Linked DNA regions of Homo sapiens: region 2 is linked to region 1. Evidence: fine-mapped expression QTL. Tissue or cell type: lung. Region 1 holds a variant in brackets; the other region holds the start of a gene. All regions are shown on one strand. Distances are from middle to middle. Region 1 overlaps MSR1 (macrophage scavenger receptor 1). Region 2 holds the start of MSR1 (macrophage scavenger receptor 1).

What was found.
Region 2: it holds the start of MSR1, and the variant in region 1 is fine-mapped to the expression of MSR1 in lung (TOPMed, PIP above 0.99). The same link has a PIP of 0.9 or more in aorta, blood mononuclear cells, nasal epithelium, tibial artery and whole blood.

What each region holds. Positions count from the first base shown.
Region 1 is chr8:16,152,050-16,157,447 of GRCh38, reverse strand. MSR1 (macrophage scavenger receptor 1) reads left to right here. Exons shown (of 10, transcript NM_138715.3): 6 at 2,304-2,384. Among named protein-coding and RNA genes, the nearest start is that of MSR1, 38 kb to the left of the region's middle. The variant C/T (reference allele first, on the strand shown) is at 2,363.
Region 2 is chr8:16,189,569-16,194,966 of GRCh38, reverse strand. It overlaps MSR1 (macrophage scavenger receptor 1), which reads left to right and starts at 2,316. Exons shown (of 10, transcript NM_138715.3): 1 at 2,316-2,369.

The sequences.
Region 1 (5,398 bases):
ATTGTAGGATTCGAATACCAGGTATCAGTATTTTTATATAAAAATACAGAGAGGGATCTTTAACTCCAAATTTTGTAAAATAATACTGATCTATTCGCTGTGATTGAACTAATACTCCAAAATTAAGTATACAGTTCCCATAATTACATGTAATATAATTGAAAGGATAGTTAGTAATTAGGAGAGTTCCTTCCATCTCTTACTTACCAAAGAAATGGTGAGAAGTCCATCTCAGAGGCTAAGAGTCTAGATCTATTCTCTGTGTCCCTTGTTTCTTCTTGTTTCATGTTCTAGTTTTTCCTGGAATGTCTGCGTCTTGCTTTGGATCCTGAGTTACTAAACTGAAATCTTTGCTTGCGCACTTTTTTCAAAATACCATCCTTGATTACTATCCCTGTGCTTCCCTTCAATTAGCTCAACAAAATTCAGGCATAAATTGAGTGTCTGTCCTGCTTGCCCCCCTCCCCTGGGATTCATTGCTATGTAGTGTTGAATGGATGCAGCTGCGTTCATGGTTATGGAAGTTACCATAACTCCATTTTCTTGGGAAGTACTACATTCTTCTGCAGGGAATAGGGGGCACATAGAGATTCCCTTTGATACAGAAATCTTACATTTCTTGTGCAGCATTTAAATATATGTCTCGCAGCAATTAAGCTATACCTTAGAATATAATACACCAGTTAATTTCTAAAAGCCCTGTAACATGTTGTTTGCATGACGATTATGTGGAAAAAAAAAATACACGTACACACTTAGGAAAGAAATGGTAAAGATCTTTAGTTAAAATAACACAACTACGAATTATATTCTTCCTCACGCTTTTTCTAGGCTTTTATGTTTCCTATAAGTAGAGTTGCTTTTATAATAAAAATACAATTAAATGTGTGTCCAATGTTGCATATGAGGAGAAAGGGACATTCTATTGAGAAGAGTAATAATGATATCTTGGGCCTCTAAAACCCAAATTGTACCTTGAAAATGGGACATACCAGAGGAATAGACAGAAGTAGAGTCAAGGATGTCAAAATAAGCAACAACAAAATGTACAAAATATACTTATTCATGAGATAATCTTTATTTATTTATGTGGTTCCCCCTCTTAGATTTCTTCGGGTATTATGTCTCCCACCTGATTAAAATTTGTAAACAAGTGCATTCTAACCAGGGATGCTGTATATATTTGTTTTCCTTGGACTATGTATGTGTCCAAACTAGCAATTGAAAATGCTTCCTTTAAAATATCACTATTTCCTTATTCTGTGGTGAATCTATGGAATAATGTTTCTTTCTGTTTCTTTCTTCTGGTGTTGAAAAGGAAACTAAGTGCTCTTCTTTAGATAAAGAAGAGATTATTTGTCCTCTGTACTCCATATGGAACATGGTGTTTAGGTAGGATTACCTTTGAGTTCTAAAGACATGCTAGGTATAATCATTTTAAAGGCATGATGAGCAGGTATCTGTTTTGCTGGACACAGAAAATACAAATGGCTAAATCAGGGTTGTTTAGTTACAGCTCTCAGGAGAGCCACCTGAAAAAAAATGATGAGACCAAAGTTTTCCTTGCAATGTCTCCATTTTGTTTACAGTATTTATAGCAACCTAGAAATTCTACTTAATATTTTACTTGAAAAAAGAATTCCTCTACTCATTTTCACCTTCCTGCCTTTCCTCATGCCTTTCTCAATCCCTAGGAATTGTCTTCCTTCCCCTTCCCTTCATTCTTGAAAGTACCCCTCATATCCTACTTTCTCAATGAAGACTTCAACCATCACCATTCACGCCGATCTACAGTTCACTGACAAATATCTGAGTTTATGGTCAGTTCCAACAAAGTGCTTTCTGGTTGTCTACCATGTGTGAATTTTCCTTTCCCTTGAGGGTATCACAAATGTCTTTTAAGTTCTTACTTATAGATTTTCCGTATAGTAGCTAATTCTGTATTATATCTAACTCTATGTCTAACTGCCTAGGATGCGTACAACACTAATGTGACTTTGTGCCAGCCTGCTGTCTTTTCTCTGCCCCCAGGTTCTCAGAACATAGAAAAGTGTTAGGCACACTCACATTTAATATACTGTTAGGTTGTTTACTTTGAGGCAATGTCATCCTCATTAGTATAGGGCATTATATTCCTGAATAGCAGAATACTCCTCCATTCATGAAGTTCAGTATTATACATTCTATATTATTGCACAACAAATAGAAGACTTTGGATTTCCTTATATAAGTACCTTGACAGATGACTAACCCATTTTTCCTATGCTTTACAACTATGATCAGTAACTGTAATTTTTTTAAAGGTCCTCCTGGACCCCCGGGTGAAAAAGGAGATCGAGGTCCCACTGGAGAAAGTGGTCCA[C/T]GAGGATTTCCAGGTCCAATAGGTATGGTAATTTTAGCTATTTAATCATATACTGTGAAGATAGATGATATACATCCAGGTACATGTGTAGGGGAGGATTGCTATTTTATTTATATCCTGCAGAGGATGTGTATGTGTGTGTGTGTGTGTATGCACGCACATGTGTGTATATGTGTGTGTGTTTTGGGGGATTAGTAAATGTTCTAGTAGCCTAATCACATAATACACTGAATGATAAGCATTACTCATGACTGTTGAAGAAAATAAATGCTTTAACCAGAGTAACCAAATGGAATTGTTTGTAAGTCTAGATAGTGACATGTATATAATAGACAGCAAACAGTATAAGGCAGACCTAACCGTAGATCATATGTGAAGGGGAGTACAACAATTATCTTTGCGTTGAATAAATCATCTTCACATTTGCAAGCTATCTCATTTTTAAGACATAAAAACTCACACTAGTAGTGAGTTATGAATCACAAGCAAATTGGACTATATTTCTTATATAGTATTTGGAATATATCTGTTTAAACTAATGAAATCTGAATGTAAATATTGGCTAAAATATGGATGACACTTACCTTGCTGACAGTCACTCTCTGTGCTTTACTAAGAGCAAAACTGTTTCAAATTATTTTCCTCTAAGTTGTAATCTTGAAAGAAATATTTTGAAAGAAGACACAGAAGAGAGAACATGAACTTTCTTTGCTTGAAAAAATAAAAAAGATAATAACATGATTGTCATGTTAGCCTTGGCTTGAAATCAAATATCCTGCATGCCGTTTGATGGTAGGAAGTATACTGCAAGGTCTAATTATAAGTAGAATGGTTTGTGTTACCAAAACATGTCTAAATACCATGTACTTCATCTTATTTTTCTGTCTTTTGATTATATAAAAGGTTCTTCTTTCTGATCAGTGTATTGACTAGCCCTGGTCACATCAGAAAAATTTTTGAAAATGAGAAGCATGAACTTGATACCTGCCTAAGCACATATATGTATATATATGTATATAAATATATATGGCATATTATATGTGAAGATAGATGATATACATCCAGGTACACATGTTTTATATATATAAAATAGCAATCCTACCCATATATATAATATGCCAAGTCAGGTGGTATTAGTATTGATGTGCTTTTGAATGCCTTGCCAGGAAAGAATTTTTATTCAGGAAAGTCTTTCTACTTGACTAATGCTAATCAGATATTAACAATGCTGCATTAATGTCATAAGCAGAGGAAATAACCAGTATTAAATCTGCTGCCAGAACTACCATTGTCAAGGGTCTATCACCCCCTCCATACAGGCTGCAATTGTCAGAGCTTTATAACTCAACCATAAAAATTCAGTCTGGGCTACATCTTGCCATACAGTGCTTCATCTTGGGAGAATCTTCTGCAGCTGTTTCTGAACTGTGAATGTATGAAATAGAAGGATTTATAAATTTCAGCTTGTGTTAATGTTATAAATAGACACCATTGCAAAGAATCTTTGATTTTGTTTTTTTTTTATTGTAAATTAACGATTTGTCATGGTTTAAATTTACAGGGTAAAAAGTGATGTCATAATTTGTTGCTTTTGGTACTGCTCATTTACACAAATAGGCATTACCCAGTTCCTCATAAAAGACAGGTCGAGTTCCTGGGGTAATCAATGACTCTTCTAGGTTATCAGGTTACCATTTTGTTTGGTGCACTACAAGAAAAGTATTCAAAATACCAGGCATCTTTCCTAATGAATTATTTCTGGATGTCTTGCTGCATTCTGTTCGTTTCTCCACCAGATTGTCTAATTGCCTTATATTTGATGCCGAAATCAGGAAGCAAAGAGTATATGATGGACAATCATACTAATTCTGCTTTCTAATCTGAGCAGGTTTATTGCTTCCCCATCTCTACATCCATTTGAGCCTACTAAACTCAGCTTGACCAAGTCAAACTCACCTAGACTCACAATCATGATGCGAATATCTGCAAAACCTAAGTGGTTGTCCTAGTAGCCTCAAATAACTAATACATTAAATATAGTAGAATTATTATTCATATACTAGGGTGGATATTATGTTTAAATATGCTTTATTCCCCAAATAATAACAAATTTATTTTAGAGGGCTATTTCCTTGAAAGCATGCTAGGGAGAATGACCTATCACTTTTCACTCAAAAACTATGTGCTGAGCACTTTCTCCAGGCCTGGTGTTCTACAATACCCTATAGAGTATGTGTAAACAGATACAGAATCTCTGAATTCACAGCGCTTCCAGGATGATAAGTAGTAATATAAGGGAGGCAAATGTCATGATCAAGGATTTTTTATCTCATGTGAGTTTCTTTTAAGGGGCTGATTTTACCCATGACAACAATGTTTTGAAGGAGAAGCAACTTTCTTTTCTAAAGGAAACTTTGTGTGGGCCATCTAAGAAGCTGTTTATGCCCAATGTGATCAATAACAAGGTAGTTTGACCTGTAGGCATGGGTGGGGCTACCTACATGAGATGCCCTCGAGAGAACTGAAGGCTTCTCTGGCTGCAAACTTTTCATCATCAACCAGTACTATTTACTTCCTTACGTAGTCTGAATTTTCCACCATAGGAATCGTGCTTCCAGAAGAGAAAATAAAGCTCATCTTACCCATAGATATTGGAAGAGAGGAACCATATTTTATTAATGTTTATATCCACGTATATCTTTACCCTGGCCCGCCCCTTCCCATAGGCTATGGCCCCAAGAAGGCCCCTCCCTAAAGCTTCAGCAAGGACAGGATCCTTAAATATACACCTGAGTAAGGAATGTTGCCTGGCTGCAGGCTGTCGCTCTACACCTGAGTATTGAAAGTGGGTTTTTTCTGGAAGTAACAAATTGTGCCAGTGAATCAAAAAATGTCACTGCTAACTGTGTACGTATCATTTAATAAAACTAAATTTAGAAGCCTTTACAACAGGCTGGTAAAAATAATGATTGTATTACTGAGGAGGAGGATGAGGAAGAGGGGGAGGAGAACAAGAAAAGCTAACATTTACAAAGT
Region 2 (5,398 bases), 38 kb before region 1:
TCTGATGACTCATAACTCTGATCTCGAGAAATTTACTTACCATCTCTAAACATTAATTTCTCAATTAGGGAAGTGATATGACAAAGTTGCTGTGAAGTCAAATGAAGGAATGAATGCAAAATCCCAACCCTTTACATATTACCTCTGTTCTCAATTAATCATTGGCTTGAACTGAACATTTTTAACATGGTTCCCTGCTAAAGGTGTTTTTACATATAGTAAGACCTAATAGATAATATTATGTTACATAATCTATAATTATTATATATAAAACTATATAAAATTATATAGTACCTATTTAGACATATAAAAAGGGAAGTTTTTTAATGAAAAATTAGATTGGCTGAAGAGTGTGGAAATCATCACATAGGGAAGTGGTCAGCACTGTGGATATACACCAAACAGTATTACAGAGACATACTGAAAATAAAGCACACTGACAGAAAGAAACCTCATTAGGATAGAATTTTGGGAGATTGGTGTCTTGTTATTCCCAGAGTCTGACTTTTCTAATCACGTAGCATTGTCAGGGATATCTAAATTTTAAACTTCAGATTTTGTACAAAAAAACCTAAAAGGACTATATTTTAAAATAAGAAGCATGTACAAATAATTGTAAAGGAAAGAGTGTGAGTTTTGTAGTCTCCAGTTCTGTGTCAGTAAGAATTTGATGAGGAATAGCCAATAGCATTTATGCTGGTCCAGGCTGGATCAAATTGTGATCGTACTTCTAGTCTTCAAGCTGCCTGGTTAGAAATTATGCAGCTTACTTTGATGCCTGTCCTACTACTACTATTAGCCTTTTAGTGGTTACCTTAAGAATAACTGAATAATACTGTTACTTTGCATCTCTCAAAGACCGTGCGCTGTTCCCGCATACTTTCTTGCAGACGTATTGTCTTCTGAAGGATGGTGCCCATGGGCACAGCAATTTGGGGCATCTTTTGGTAGGAAGCATGATTTCTCCTGTTTGGGCACAAAAGAGTGACTACGGAATATAAGCTAAACACCTTCTCCCAGAAATATCAGTTGTAAAACTTAGCTCATTAATGTAATGTTGAACGTTTTCATGTGAGTCATACTTGAACTTCTTGAATGTGAGTAAATAACGGAGTTGAATTGTATAAAACCCTGATGGATGGCAGAAGGGAAAGAACATCCCTTTCATCTGATCCATGCCTGAGATTCCTTCCCTCTACTATACTACTGGAAATAAACAACTTGTCTGGTGCTCTAAAAATTAATGCTATTATCATTATAGAGAGAACAGGAGTGAGTGCTTTTAGGTTATTACTTGTTCTTACTAAGGCATCATATTCTTTCTTCACGTGTTTTGTGTTTGAGGCTAGGGATAAAGGTACAGGAAAAAGGATCTAAGAAAAAAACTCGAATCTCTAAACATGGAGTCTTTTTTTTTTTTTTTTTTTTTGAGGTGGAGTCTCACTCTGTTGCCCAGGCTGGAGTGCAGTGGTGCGATCTCTGCTCACTGCAACCTCCGCCTCCTGGGTTCAAGCAATTCTTCAGCCTCAGCCTCCCGAGTAGCTGGGATTACAGGCGCATGCCTGGCCAATTTTTGTATTTTTAGTAGAGACTAGTTTCACCATGTTGGCCAGGCTGTTCTAGAGCTCCTGACCTCAAGTGATCCAGCCACCTCGGCCACCCAAAGTGCTGGGATTACAGGCATGAGCCACCACACCTAGCCAAACATGGAGTCTTTACTCAACATTATAGTAACGTGAAAGAGGAGATCATGAGAATTAATGTATGTTTTAGAAGGCATAGATTACTTATAAAAAAGGAAAGATCAGGCTGGGCACGGTGGCTCGCGCCTGTAATCCCAGCACTTTGGGAGGCCAAGGCGAGCGGACCATGAGGTCAGGGGATCAAGACCATCCTGACCAACATGGCGAAACCCTGTCTCTACTAAAATACAAAAAATTAGCCGGGTGTGATGGCACACGCCTGTAGAACCTGGGAGGCAGAGGTTGCAGTGAGCGGAGATCACACCACTGCACTCCACCCTGGTGAGACAGCGAGACTCCATCTCCAAAAAAAAAGGAAAGCTCAATCTGCTGTAAATTATGTGCTTGTTTCAACAACCCTTGTTTCTTTTCCTTTTCACTTCTCTTTTTTTTTTAAAGCGGCCTAAATGGGGTGAAGAGTGAGTTATCTGACAAATTTAGATTTTGCAAACCTGTGCATTGATGAGAGTGCTATTGAAACACATTAAGAAAGATTTTCAACGCAGGAATGTGTCATTTCCTTTCTTCATGTACCAGATGCTGAAATACTATGAGATAAAGATTTTAGGTTTCAATTGTAAAGAGAGAGAAGTGGATAAATCAGTGCTGCTTTCTTTAGGACGAAAGGTAAAGAAAAAAAAAGGCTTATTTTAATGTTTTTTCCAGAATTGTTTCTATTGATTGTTATGTGTGTACTCTGTGTGTGTGTGTGCATGCATGTGTGTGATATATATTTGTGTGTCTGTGTGTGTATGATGAGATGAATGCTTTATTGTATCAGCAATAATTTGGTTTGGTTTTTTTCGATAATCAAAAAATAGGGATTTCTGCTAAATTTTCCATGAGTGAAAAACATATATGTTCACAAGTACATATGAAATACACTAAATGCTTTGTAGTTTGAACCAGCAATGGGGTTTTTTCATATAATTAAGCATATTTTGTTTAAAATACTGGTTTTATTCAAAGTATAATTTGACATATTTCACCTATTCTCCTTTCATAACTTTTCATGGAACATTTTTGGCTTTAATCTAATGCCTTTTATTATCTTCCCTTGATTATATAGCAAATATTGGCTGGGTATCTACTATATGCACTTCATTGAACTAGATGTGGGGAAAGGATACAAAAAATAAGATATAGTTCTTTTTGTGCTCCGGAATCTTATGATTTAAAACATATCCCCAAATAGGCATAATGTAATTTGAGCACCTTAAGTAGTATGAAAGTACTATAGATAATTACTAGCACCTTAAGTAGTATGAAAATGCTATAGATAATTACTATGAAAATATAGGCGAGGCCAAAATTACTTCTATGTGAAAAAAGTCTATCAAAAATAAATCTTCATGGAGATGCTAGAAATCTGATTAATCTTGAAGACTAAGTAAGATTCACACAGCATATAATGGGAGGTTGGCATTTGCACTGACCAGGTAAAAATACTTATAGAAAAACCATAGAACTGAGATTACAGATGTTTTATGCAGTGATTAGCCGTTTTATGCAGTGGGTAAGAGCTAATCTTCTGGGAGTAGACTGCCTGTGTTCAAATTCCAGCTCCCCTGCTCCCTAGTTGAGTAACTTGACTAGTTACTTACACATTTCAGTTCCCTAACCTGTAAAATGGAGAAAATACTACTTGTACCTCATGAAGATTCCGTGAGAACAAAATAAGAAAAGCTCATATTTAAAAAAAAAGTGATATTTTAAAATAACAGGGATTCATATATTGATGGTTTTCTGTGTACCAGGCAATTTACAAAAATTATTTTTAATTCTCGCAATAATTCTTTAAATTTATATTGTGATCATATTTTACATATCTAAAGAAAGTTCAATTCAAATAAGTTAAAATATTTGCCTAAGATCACACAGCTAAATGATGTCACAGTCAATACTCAAATCTAGATTTCAGATTCAAAAGTTGATGCTCTTTCTTCTTTGCTACCAAGGATGAATATCAGTGACATCAGGCACAATATAAATATTTCCATTTCTTACTAAAATCTGTCTTACAGACGGGTTCCTTAAGCATAAAGCTGTTAGTTTCACAAATAATCTTAATTTAATTTTCATTTTATATACACATTCAACTGCTGTTACAAAAATCAAAGTTATTATTTTATATAATAAGGAGGATCACAAGCTTATTATTTATTCCAAATGTTGAAGATAAAGTTGGCCTTAAGAATATGATGGGCCGGGCACGGTGGCTCACGCCTGTAATCCCAGCACTTTGGGAGGCCAAGGCAGGTGGATTACCTGAGGTCGGGAGTTCAAGACCAGCCTGACCAACATGGAGAAACCCTGTCTCTACTGAAAATACAAAATTAGCCGGGCGTGGTGGTGCATGCTTGTAATCCCAGTTACTCCGGAGTCTGAGGCAGGAGAATCACATGAACCCAGGAGGCGGAGGTTGTGGTGAGCCAAGATCACGCCATTGCACTCCAGCCTGGGCAACAAGAGCGAAACTCCATCTCAAAAACAAAAAGAAAGAAAGAAAAAAGAAAGAATATGATAAAAAAACTAAATAGGGAAAAATCTTAGGAAAACGAATGCATGTCAAGTATGAAAAGACAGATGGTAAATATGTATTAAACATAAAGAGCTGATTCACATGCTTAGGTAAAAGAAACCTGTGGGGATGTATAAGCAGTGAATATGAATAGATAATAACCCAAGAAGAACAATGTATGACAGACAATTACAGTGAAATCTCTCTCTTACATTAATAATAAAAAATAAAAATGAAAACCACTTTTAGGTATTATTTAACTCTTATCAAAATCTAAATGATTCTAAAATAAGCTTTATTATTCAATGGTAGTGAATTTTGCTTGAAACTGCCATATTCACATATAAGTCTGGAATATTTATAAATTTATGTTATCTTTTTAAAGATCACTAAGACAGTAGAGCCCAAGAAGTTCAAAATAGTTTTCCTTTCACTTTTTAGTTTCACATATGATGAATTATCCTAAAGAAACATTTTAAAAGAAGAAAGCTAAATTATGAAAATAATGGCCGGGGCAGTGGCTCACATCTGTAATCCCAGCACTTTGGGAGGCCAAGGAGGGTGGATCACCTGAGGTCAGGAGTTTGAGACCAGCTGGATGAACGCGGTGAAAAATACAAAAATGAGCTGGGCATGGTGGCAAACGCCTATAATCCCGCTACTCGGGAAGCTGAGGCAGGAGAATCACGTGAACCCAGGAGGCAGAGGTTTCAGTCAGCTGAGATCACACCATTACACTCCAGCCTGGGTGACAAAGCAAGACTCAATCTCAAAAAAAAAAAAAAAAAGGAAATATTTATAACATCATTATTTATATCAGTGAAGCATTGCCCCCTGGGAAAAGGAAAAAAAGTTTAAAAGAAAAAATTATATTTTAGAAAAATGGCTGTATTTTTTATTTAGAAAAATGGCTGTATAAATAAGATTTTATATATATATAAAATATATATAAAATAAGATTTTATATATATATAAAATATATATAAAATAAGATTTTATATATATATAAAATATATATAAAATAAGATTTTATATATATATAAAATATATATAAAATAAGATTTTATATATATATAAAATATATATAAAATAAGATTTTATATATATATAAAATATATATAAAATATATATAAAA